Linked DNA regions of Homo sapiens: region 1 is linked to region 2. Evidence: fine-mapped expression QTL. A gene starts in region 2. The other region holds a variant in brackets. All regions are shown on one strand. Distances are between the middles of the regions. Region 1 holds the start of TRG-CCC4-1 (tRNA-Gly (CCC) 4-1). Region 2 holds the start of CROCC (ciliary rootlet coiled-coil, rootletin).

Evidence for each region. PIP is the estimated chance that this variant, and not a neighbour inherited with it, causes the effect.
Region 1: its variant is fine-mapped to the expression of CROCC in spleen (GTEx, PIP 0.96).

Annotation. Positions count from the first base shown.
Region 1 is chr1:16,675,554-16,680,928 of GRCh38, forward strand. TRG-CCC4-1 (tRNA-Gly (CCC) 4-1) reads right to left here and starts at 2,788; the gene lies at 2,718-2,788. RefSeq lists an enhancer at 1,297-1,346 and a silencer at 1,377-1,526. The variant C/T (reference allele first, on the strand shown) is at 2,749.
Region 2 is chr1:16,919,488-16,924,862 of GRCh38, forward strand. It overlaps CROCC (ciliary rootlet coiled-coil, rootletin), which reads left to right and starts at 2,444. Exons shown (of 37, transcript NM_014675.5): 1 at 2,444-2,591; 2 at 3,176-3,311; 3 at 4,838-4,992. The coding sequence starts at 2,532. RefSeq lists enhancers at 1,086-1,858, 1,859-2,630, 2,631-3,402, 3,403-4,174, 4,358-4,968.

The DNA.
Region 1 (5,375 bases), 240 kb before region 2:
TTTCAGGTTTCAGCAGCAAGAGGGTATGCCTCCCTGTCTGTCAGAATGGCCACCTTGCAGGCTGTAACCCTTTATAAAAAATAAAATCTCCCTTCTAAATTTATAAATTGTGTGATTTTTCAGTTGACAGCTTTCAGTCAGACTTTTCACTGACTGGGAAAAGTCATTTGCAATATATTTATTTTAAAAATGACTCCTCAGGATACAAAATTCTTGTGCAAAAATCACAAGCATTCTTATACACCAATAACAGACAAACAGAGAGCCAAATCATTAGTGAACTCCCATTCACAATTGCTTCAAAGAGAATAAAATACCTAGGAATCCAACTTACAAGGGATGTGAAGGACCTCTTCAAGGAGAACTACAAAACACTGCTCAACAAAATAAAAGAGGATACAAACAAATGGAAGAACATTCCACGCTCATGGGTAGGAAGAATCACTATCGTGAAAATGGTCATACTGCCCAAGGTAATTTATAGATTCCCTGCCATCCCCATCAAGCTACCAATGACTTTCTTCACAGAATTGGAAAAAACTACTTTAAAGTTCATATGGAACCAAAAGAGAGCCCGCATCGCCATGTCAATCCTAAGCCAAAAGAACAAAGCTGGAGGCATCACGCTACCTGACTTCAAATGATACTACAAGGCTACAGTAACCAAAACAGCATGGTACTGGTACCAAAACAGAGATATAGACCAATGGAGGAGAACAGAGCCCTCAGAAATAATGCCACACATCTACAACTATCTGATCTTTGACAAACCTGACAAAAACAAGAAATGGGGAAAGGATTCCTTATTTAATAAATGGTGCTGGGAAAACTGGCTAGCCATATGTTGAAAGCTGAAACTGGATCCCTGTTCTCATTGCTTGCACCTGGGAGACACAGGTTGCAGTGAACTGAGATTGAGCCATGGCACTCCAGCCTGGGTGACAGAACGAGACTACATCTCAATAATAATAATAATAGTAATAATTTACTGTTCTCATAAAAATTAGCGGATGGGGAATGGAGGCAAGCCGGTGCAAACCATGACAACTAGTTTAGATTTTATTGTCAACTCATGAAAAACTCGTTCTCATTTTGTGTTTTTAAAAAATTCCACTGATACAGCCGTTTTCTCTACCGAAAAAGACTATAACCGCATTATTTCATCACTGGAAGCTACAGACAGAGGGCCCTTGAGAGGCGGCATCTTCACCTACGGGAATGTTTCCTGCTCAATTGTGAGACAAAGAGCATGTCCAAGTTTTCCTATAGGCCAGGCCGCCCCCTAGTTTCTGCGCTGTGGGCTAAACTCCAGAAGCTGGCGCCCTTCAGGGCCAGAGGTTTCCTGTGCTCTCTGGAGGCTGCTAGGATTAAAGGCAAAGCAAACGACAGGTCTATTAGCCACAGTTGCAGGATAGAAAACACTACTGTGACTCAGATTAGAACAGAGGTTGTGGCAACCACAACTACAAGTATTAACCACTACACGACCACAAAGTCTGCTGACAACCATTGCACTTCTTCTATTTTTTTAATGTAAAAACACTCACACTATTTTATCTGGTTTATTCTAGGACGTCCGCAGATTTTTGTGCTTTTCTGTCTTTCATGTGCTTCTCCCTTTCTCTCCCCATTCTGCTACATAATTTAAAAAAAATCTCTTCTCTCAGGATCCAGCCACTGCCTCTACAACAAGCCTCCTGGGAGGTCTCTTTGTCCCATTGACATCTCTGCCTTCTTTCGCTGCTTTTTTTTTTTTTTTTTTTTTTGACGGAGTCTCGCTCTGTCGCCCAGGTGGAGTGCAGTAGCGCGATCTTGGCTCACTGCAACCTTTGCCTCCTGGGTTCAAGCGATTCTCCTGCCTCAGCGTCCCAAGTATAGCGTCCCAAGAATAGCAGGTGCATGCCACCACATTCGGCTAATTTTTGTATTTTTAGTAGAGATGGGATTTTTCCATGTTAGCCAGGCTGGTCTTGAACTCTTGACCTCAAGCGATCCATCCGCCTTGGCCTCACAAAATGCTGGGATTACAGGCGTGTGCCAACGTGCCCGGCCAAATTTCAGGCCAACACCTGTTGACACACATTGCCAGACACACGGAATCCCTCGCGGAACACCGATGGGCCCACAAAACACGCGGGGGCTGCGGTCGCTGATGATGTGAGCAAATTCGATTCACGGTGTCTGGGGTACAGCCCTGAGGGTTCACTGGCCACCTCTGCGCAAGGACCAGTCTCCGCCGCTCCCCTCATCTCCACGCAGATTCTTGCCCACACACCTCCCCTTTCTTTGGGCCGATGACAACTCTTGGACCTCTGAGGTGACTGTCCTGCCCGCAGCTTCTCTCCTTCCAAGAGTGTCATTTCTTGATCCTCTCCATAGTGGCTCAACGGTAAGCCCAAGGTCCAGCACGCGAATCAGGAAACTGATGGTTCTTTGGGTTTGCAGGGATCCTTCCAGTGAATAAATGAAAGTAACAGGTACCAGTATCAAAACTGCAGTGACTCACCAGAGACACTTCATGCTTGCCAGCTTGCTAAGCTGTTTGAGTCCAACAACTGCATGGGGTCCTGGGTTAGTCTCCTGCCGCTACTTTGGTGAGTGTTGTTGTCACTTTACCTTGTGGTGGCCAAGCCCCTAAATGCACTCTTGGGTTATGCAGTATAATTTTCAGCGTAAAAGACAAGTAAAGAGCCATAGCGAAGTGAAAAACAACCACGTGCAGTGGCCGGGAATTGAACCCGGGTCTCC[C/T]GCATGGGAGGCGAGAATTCTACCACTAAACCACCAACGCCTCTCTGGAACTACCCCCTGGAGGATAACAGAAAAGAGTAACCACAAAGATTTAGAAACTGTTCTAAGCGGTTTTTTCAAGTGTCGACTAAAAGCTAACAAAGACATCCAAACCAAATGTGTTTTTATAGGAAACTTTTATTAGACAACGTTATAAATATCAAAATAGCTCATTTGTCGGATCAAACTCTTAACTCTGAAAAAGGTCTTTCTACCTGCATTACAAACCCCTATAATAAAACATCAGAAATTCATTCATGTTTCTTTTTTCTAATCCTAAATCTTCCATCATCAACCTCAAACTGCTGCCTTAGAGGTTCTGAGAAGGTAACCTAACTGGTAGTTTAGGTAAGTAAAGTTCAAATCCAGGGAGGAAATAAGAAGCAGAAGCAGAATTAGAAGAAAGACGAAATAAAAGGACAGAACCACGGTAGAGATAATGAAGAAACAAAGGTTGGTCCACTAAGTTAGTCTTTTGTCGTTGGTTTTTTTTGGCAAAAGAGTAATGATCGGTCTCGTAATCATTATAATACTATTATTTGTCTGCTTGAAGATGTATAAAGCATTTGAAGGAAATGTGATGTGAAAAGATGAAGAACGCTTGCCGTCAATGTTTCATTGTTTGGGAGAATCCCATTTCCTAAGTTAATATGCTTTGATGTGTTAGCTATGTAAGCAGTAGACTAGTTTAAGGAAATATTGACGGTCAAATATTAACATATTAGTCTTTTGATGAAGTTCAAATATTAGAGAGATTTCTTTCCTCAATTTTCAATGGAGACATTCAACTGAAGAGACAAATCCAGAGTTTTCTCCACATGTTGGGTCTGGGAGTCATTATGACTTTTTCAAAGACAGGAGCTGTGACATGGAATCATGCTTCTTCTCAAGCTGAGAAGCCAAGCTAGGTCCAGGCTGAGTCATAAACTTGAGCCCACCAAGGAAATCATCCTTCACATTGACCTCGCAGAGCTTTGGCTGTTCTCTGTTCTTTGCCCAACACCCAAGACACACACCAGCTCTGGCCAACAAACCTTAACATATGATCTATATCAACCAAAGCTACATTTATTCCCAAATCTCCTTCTAAAATACAAACCTGTACTTTCTACTCTCAACTTCTAAATCTACCAAGGCCTCATATGCATCTGAGTCACAGATGCTAAAACTTAACCGGTTTTCTGAGGATTATTTGAGGAAGGGGTATGCATGCAAATGTATATACATAATTCATGTGATTTAGGAATATGGACTCTATGACTTCCAGATGCAGATTTAGAACCTTTTTAAAAAATATTTTGTTTTTGTTGTCTTGCAAATCAGCCAGATCTGCAACTTACCAGAGTAAAGCCAAACCAAGCGGGACCCTTAGGAAATGCGCTAAGATGTCATCCACTTTCAGTGTCAGCCTGTGAAAATTCAGGCGACAGAAGAGAATAAAGAGAATCTTAAGGAATTTCTGGAACCAAAGCTAATATTAAGCAGGCCTCTTGCTGGCAGACCAGTGGAAATTGTACCTGGTCAACAATCTGTCTAGATTGAGGAGGTCTAAAATGTAGCCACAGGTTCAAATACTTTTCTGTTTGTTTCCCAACCTCGATTAAACTCACAAAATTTAGGGACCAAAAAAACAAACAAACAAACAAAAAAAAAAACAAACCACGACGTTCCCACCCAGTCTCGAATCAGGGACTTTTCTCGTGTGAGGCGAACATGATAACCACTACACCACAGAAACTGCATATGCACCAAAAAAGGCAAAATATCATCATGAAAATCTTAGATCAGCCATTTCTATTATCGTTTCCAAAGTAAGAAATTCAACTGCATTTCGAAATTCGACTGAAAAAAGCCCAATAAGCACCAGCCATCAAGAAGACTATGGCTCCCAATAGGCCCAGGCTTAGCGTTCCGCGCCCACCCCCAACACGAAAACCATGGGGACCCACACCCGGGCTTCGGGGACACATACCCGGGCTTCGGGCTCCCGCATCCTCCCCTGGGTATGCAGTTCCAGAACTAAGCGCCGTGTGCGGGATCCTCCCGGCTGACACTCTTCGGCTCCCAGAAGCTGCAGGAGCCGGCGGGCTTTGAGCCTCCGAGCCCTGGGCGCCCCGTGCCTCTCAGGAGGGTGGACGCCGCCCTTCCAGGGATGCGGACCCCGCCTCGGGGCCTTTTCCCCGGCGCCGGCCGTCGGGGCTCTTGGCTCTTCTCGTCCTCCCAGGAACCGTAGAACCCTCCTTGCCCTCCCTCCCGTAGGCCGAGGGGCGTGAGCTGCGCCTGTTTCCTCACGGACCCTTTGGCCTCAGCGCCTCGATGTCTTGCAATTCTTAGCTCACGGCTCTTCCTCCTATAACAAGGCCCTTCCATGTCATGTCCCCTACTCCCTCTTAGCACCAGAGAGATGTCTCCCCTGCCCCACAGGTCACATTCCATGAGTGGTGAAGTTTCTAGAGTTGTAACCATGGCATCTCCAGCCCTGTGTGTTCCTCTCCATGCTCCCCATTGAGCAGTCTTGATCCTATATTAGCCCCAGGAAATGAAATAGAAACAGGACCCTACGTTAAAAAGTTGCAGTGGAGATGTGG
Region 2 (5,375 bases):
AGTGTAGCAGGACAAGCCGCAGGCAAAACTCTTCAGTCACCAGGTTAAAGAAGGAAGGAACTTTATTCGGCTGGGAACTTCAGGAGACTTGTGTCTTAAAAGCCGAGCTCCTCGAGTGAGCAATTCCTGTCCTTTTTTAGGGCTTACAACTCTAAGGGCAGGAGCCCAGACACGTGATGCTAATGACAATAGGAACAGTGGCCCCCATTGGCTAATAGCTCACCACCTGCCAGGTGTGGTAGGTACTATCAGTCGCATTTTTTTGTTGTTTTTGGTAGGACAGAGTCTCGCTATGTTGCCCAGGCTGGTCTCAAACTCCTGGGCTCAAGCGATTCTCCCATTTTGGCCTCCCAAAGTGCTGGGATTATAGACCTGAATCACCACACTCGGTCTAGTCTCATTTTATTTTATTTTATTTTTTTGAGACAGACTCTTGCCCTGTCACCCAGGCTGGAGTGCTGTGGCACAATCTCGGCTCACTGCAACCTCCTCCTCCTGGGTTCAAGTGATTCCCCTGCCTCAGCCTCCTGAGTAGCTAGGATTATATGCACATGCCACCACGCCCCAGCTAATTTTTTTTATATTTATTTATTTATTTATTTATATTTTTGAGACGGAGTCTTACTGTGTCGCCAGGCTGGAGTGCAGTGGCATGATCTCGCCTCACTGCAACCTCTGCCTCCCAGGTTCAAGCGATTCTCCTGACTCAGCCTCCCAGGTAGCTGGGACTACAGGTGTGCACCACCATGCCTAGCTAATTTTTGTATTTTTAATAGAGACGGGGTTTCACCATGTAGGCCAGGATGGTCTTAATCTCTTGACCTCCTGATCCGCCTGCCTCAGCATCCCAAAGTGCTGGGATTACAGGCCAATTCTTGTATTTTTAGTAGAGATGGGGTTTCACTATGTTGGCCAGGCTGGTCTCAAACTCCTGACCTCAAGTGATCTGCCCGCCTCAGCCTCCCAAAGTGCTGGAATTAGAGGCTTGAGCCACTGCACCTGGCCTGGTTTAGTCTCCTTTTAGAGATGAGAAAACTGAGGCTCAGGGAGGTAACCTGTTCAAGGTCTTACTGTCTTGAACACCATAGTTGCAAGTGACAGAGCTGAGTCTCACATGCAACCTCAGACCTGATACTGACTCCAGAGCTGTGCGCCTAAGCACTAGAGCACATAGCCTCCTTGCCCCAGGGAAAGAACAATGGGAGGTGGTGGGTGACCTCTGGGTCTCAGGGCCCTGGGATATAGGGACTGTGCCTTTTTTTTTTTTTTTTTTGAGACAAAGTTCCACTCTTGTTGCCCAGGCTGGAGTGCAATGGCGCGATCTTGGCTCACTGCAACCTCTGCCTCCTGAGTTCAATCGATTCTCCTGCCTCAGCCTCCCAAGTAGCTGGGATTACAGGTGTGCACCACCACACCCGGCTAATTTTTGTATTTTTGGTAGAGACGGGGTTTCACCATATTGGTCAGGCTGATCTTGAACTCCTGACCTCAGGTGATCCACCCGCTTTGTCCTCCCAAAATGCCGAGATTACAGGCATGAGTGCCTGCGCCTGGCTGGGACTGTACCTTCTGGATTTTCAAATGAATGAAATGAGTATTTCTTGAGTGTTGGCCACGTGACCCCCCAGCACCATGTCATGTGCTGGGTATGCACACACGATACTGTTTCATCCCCGGACGGCTCCGAGAGATGAGTACCAATATTATCACATCTTACGTAAGAGGACACTGAGTCTCAGAGAGGCAAAGTCAGTGTCCCTGGTGCACCCAGCTAGTGGGGGCTGGGGTGGGTGTGAAGGGGCCAGAAGCTTCCCAATAAGTGCCTGAAGGGCAAGGCTAGGGCATTTGTAGTTCGAGGCTCTACCACTGTGTCTAGGTCAGACCTAGGAATGCCGCAGGTGTTGCATAAATGCTCATCAGTCCAGGCTGGACCGCTCATGCCCAACTAAGTGCCAAGCCTGGCCTGGGTGATCTCACAGCCTGCATTCTTTGCCCTACACCTGTTGTGGGAAAACATACTCCCAGCATGCTGTAAATCCTCTCATTCTTAGCTAACCATGTGACTCCCGTTCTGGGCCAGAAAGATGGTCACAAATACTTAGGACTCTGGCCTTTCCCGCCGCATGGCTACTGACCCCACCCCCTGGGCTTGGAGGGCTCTAGGACCCAGCAACCTGCGCAGGGTGAAGAGTGTGTGAGGTCCTGACCTCCAGGTGTCTCCCCTGTTTCCTCCTCCCATTCCCTCTTCTCTCTCCTCCCTCCTTTTCTCTCCCTTCTCCTCCCCTCTCTTCATCCTTCCTCTTCCTTTGGCTCCCTGCCTCTGCTTCCCTCCTCTCCTGTCCTTTCCCATCCCCTCCCTCCTCAGCCCACATCCTGCTCCTCCCACCGCGGTGGTCACATGGGGGCGCCGCCGGATTTAAGCTTAATCTGCCTGGTGCTCAGCACAGCATCCTGGCTGTGGCGCGTGCTGACTGAGCTAGTCTTGGGGTCCTGGAGAAGGGGGCTGGAGGCATGCCCACAGCCTCCCCCCCATGAGCTTGGGGCTGGCGGGGGCACAGGAGGTGGAGCTGACACTAGAGACGGTTATCCAGGTGGGTCCTGGGGGCTGTGCCCACCCTGTCTGGGGCGGGGCAGCGTGGACTTAACAGGAGTGGTGAGAGGTGTGTGCGTCTTGGGGATCAAGGGGTGGGAGAGGTGTGGTGGTGGTGGGGTATACAGGGGCCCCCCGCTTGCAGTTCCTGGCAAGATGGGGGGCAGAGGTACACACAGGGTGCACCTGCTGTGGCTCCCTCATCCCAGTGCCCTGGGTTGGGAGAAGGGGGTCTCTACTGCCAGATTTTAGGGCTTGGGGGACCTCTGGCATAGCCAGATCCTCATCCATCTAGGGTCGGAACCGGATTGGGGCCCCCAACACTGGACTGCCTCCAGTGGGGTTTGGGAGTTACCCGTAGGGTTTGGTTCTCATCTCTGGCCCTGGGCCTTCTTCCTGGGGCAGTGAGCACACAAGAGGCTCTTTGCATGGGGATTTTTTGGATTCTAACTCCCAGGCTTCACTCCATCTTGAGGGGGCTCCTGGGGACCTGTATCTTGGGCAGTAGGATTCTGTGGCTCTCCCCACGAGGCCAGGGAGCCCCGGGTCCCATGTCCCCTGAAGACCCTCTCGCTTTTCCCACAGACACTGGAGAGCAGCGTCCTGTGCCAGGAGAAAGGCTTGGGCGCGCGGGACCTGGCCCAGGACGCTCAGATCACCAGCCTGCCTGCCCTTATCAGGGAGATTGTCACCCGCAACCTCTCCCAGCCTGAGAGCCCAGGTGCCACCCCCATCCGCTCCCCTCCACAAACACCACCCACATTTTACCTCTTCTCATGTCCCTTTCCTGAGCAGTCACCATGATGATCATGACTGTAACTCACTGTGGGGCAGGCACAGCTTTATGACAGAAGAACCCATTTTACAGATGAGGAAACAGAGGCTCAGGGATGTAATTTGTCCAGACTTATTCCGCATGTGGTGCAACTAGAAGGAAGGGCCGAGCATCTCCTGCGTGCTTGCCTGTAGCCTGCTGCAGAGATGTGAACCCCAAATCCCGTATTCCCACCCGGGGAAGGTGTGAGCTGGCTGAACCCAAGATACAGGAAGAGGGCAGCTCAGCTCAGACCAGGGTTTTGCGGAAGTCTGAGTGGATGGCGCCGTCCATCCGTTTCCCACGTGGGCAGGAAGGCGGATGGTCCCTGCTCCTCTCAGTGGGTGGCGCACACGGTGTAGTTATGTGGCTTGAGGATCTGGGAAAGGCACACTCAGTTGCAGCTGGTGTGCTGGCGTGTGGCGTTTTGGTGCTCTAACCATTGTCTGTGTTCAACTCCCAAGCTACAGACGGGCCCCCTCCTTGGGAGCGCCAGGGATGTTGGCGCCCTGGAGCCCCAGACAGGGAGAGACTCAGAGGGCCCTCACCCTGACACCTGGGGTGTATGTCCAGTTCTCCCAGGGTAGAAGGGGAACCCACAGGAGGTGGACAACCCCGCTTCTCCCGCTGGCCTTTCTTTCCCTCTTCTCTCTTTCTCCTTCTCCTCACAACCTGACCTATGCTATGCTCTCCTGAGCCCTAGCCTTTAAAGTTCCATGAAGCCCTTCTCTTGAGCGAGGCTTTGATGCTTTTCTGGGAGGATCTGGTTACTACTATTCTACCTTTTTTTTTTTTTTTTTTTTTTTTGAGACAGAGTCTCGCTGTGTTGCCCAGGCTGGAGTGCAGTGGCGCAATCTCAGCTCACTGCAACCTCCACCTCCCCGGTTCAAGTGATTCTGCTGTCTCAGCCTCCCAAGTAGCTGGGACTACAGGCATACACCACCATGCCCAGCTAATTTTTGTATTTTTAGTAGAGACAGGGCTTCGCCGTGTTGGCCAGGCTAGTCTCAAACTCCTGACCTCAGGTGATCCTCCTATCTCGACTCCCAAAGTGCTGGGATTACAGGCGTGAGTCCGTGCCCGCCCCACCCATATTACAGATAAGTAAATCTGAGGCCCCGGAGAAGAAGACTAATTGGAAAAGGAGGGAGCAAGAACTCAGGGGTCTCCTGGCTCCTAGACTGAGTGTCTCTCCTGCACCTCCCAAACCTGCTGGGCCACACTTTAGCTGGAGTTGTGTTCACTTTACGTCCAGCTTTGTATCCCCTCCTTGCCTTCCTCCCTGTTCTCAGCTCTGTTTGCAGGCCTGGTGCTGCAGCCATTCCCATCTGGACTCCTCCCAGGGGCCTGGATGGTTTTCTTGCCCTCCCTGTTGGGGGGAGGATGTCCCACTGGACCCAGAAGCCAACCATGTGCCCACTGTCCCTTGCCAGTCCTGCTGCCGGCCACAGAGATGGCATCGCTGCTGTCGCTGCAGGAGGAGAACCAGCTGCTGCAGCAGGAGCTGTCCCGCGTGGAGGACCTGCTGGCCCAGAGCCGTGCCGAGCGCGATGAGCTCGCCATTAAGTACAATGCGGTCAGCGAGAGGGTGGGTGCCGCCCAGGTGGTGGACTAGGCCAGGGTTCCCCTCGTTCAAGGGCAGGGAGGCATCTAGACCAGGCCCACACACGGGGCAAAAGATGGGCCCTGGAGTCAGGTTGGCCTGGGCTTGGATTGAGGCTCTGCCACCTTGAGTGGCGTTGAGCAAATCACTATGCTCTTTAAGCCTGTTTTCTGTAGTGGGGATTGTAATGGGACGTGGAATTGTAGGAATCAAGGAGATAATAGAATAAAGTGCCTGGCACCAGGGGTATTTTGTTCCCATCTGTCCCAGGCCTGTTAGGGGTGTGGGACACGGAGAATGAGATCCCTAAAGATTCCTGCCCCTTGAGTTTCTGGGCATCTCCCATTGCCACGGGCCTTGGGGTTGAG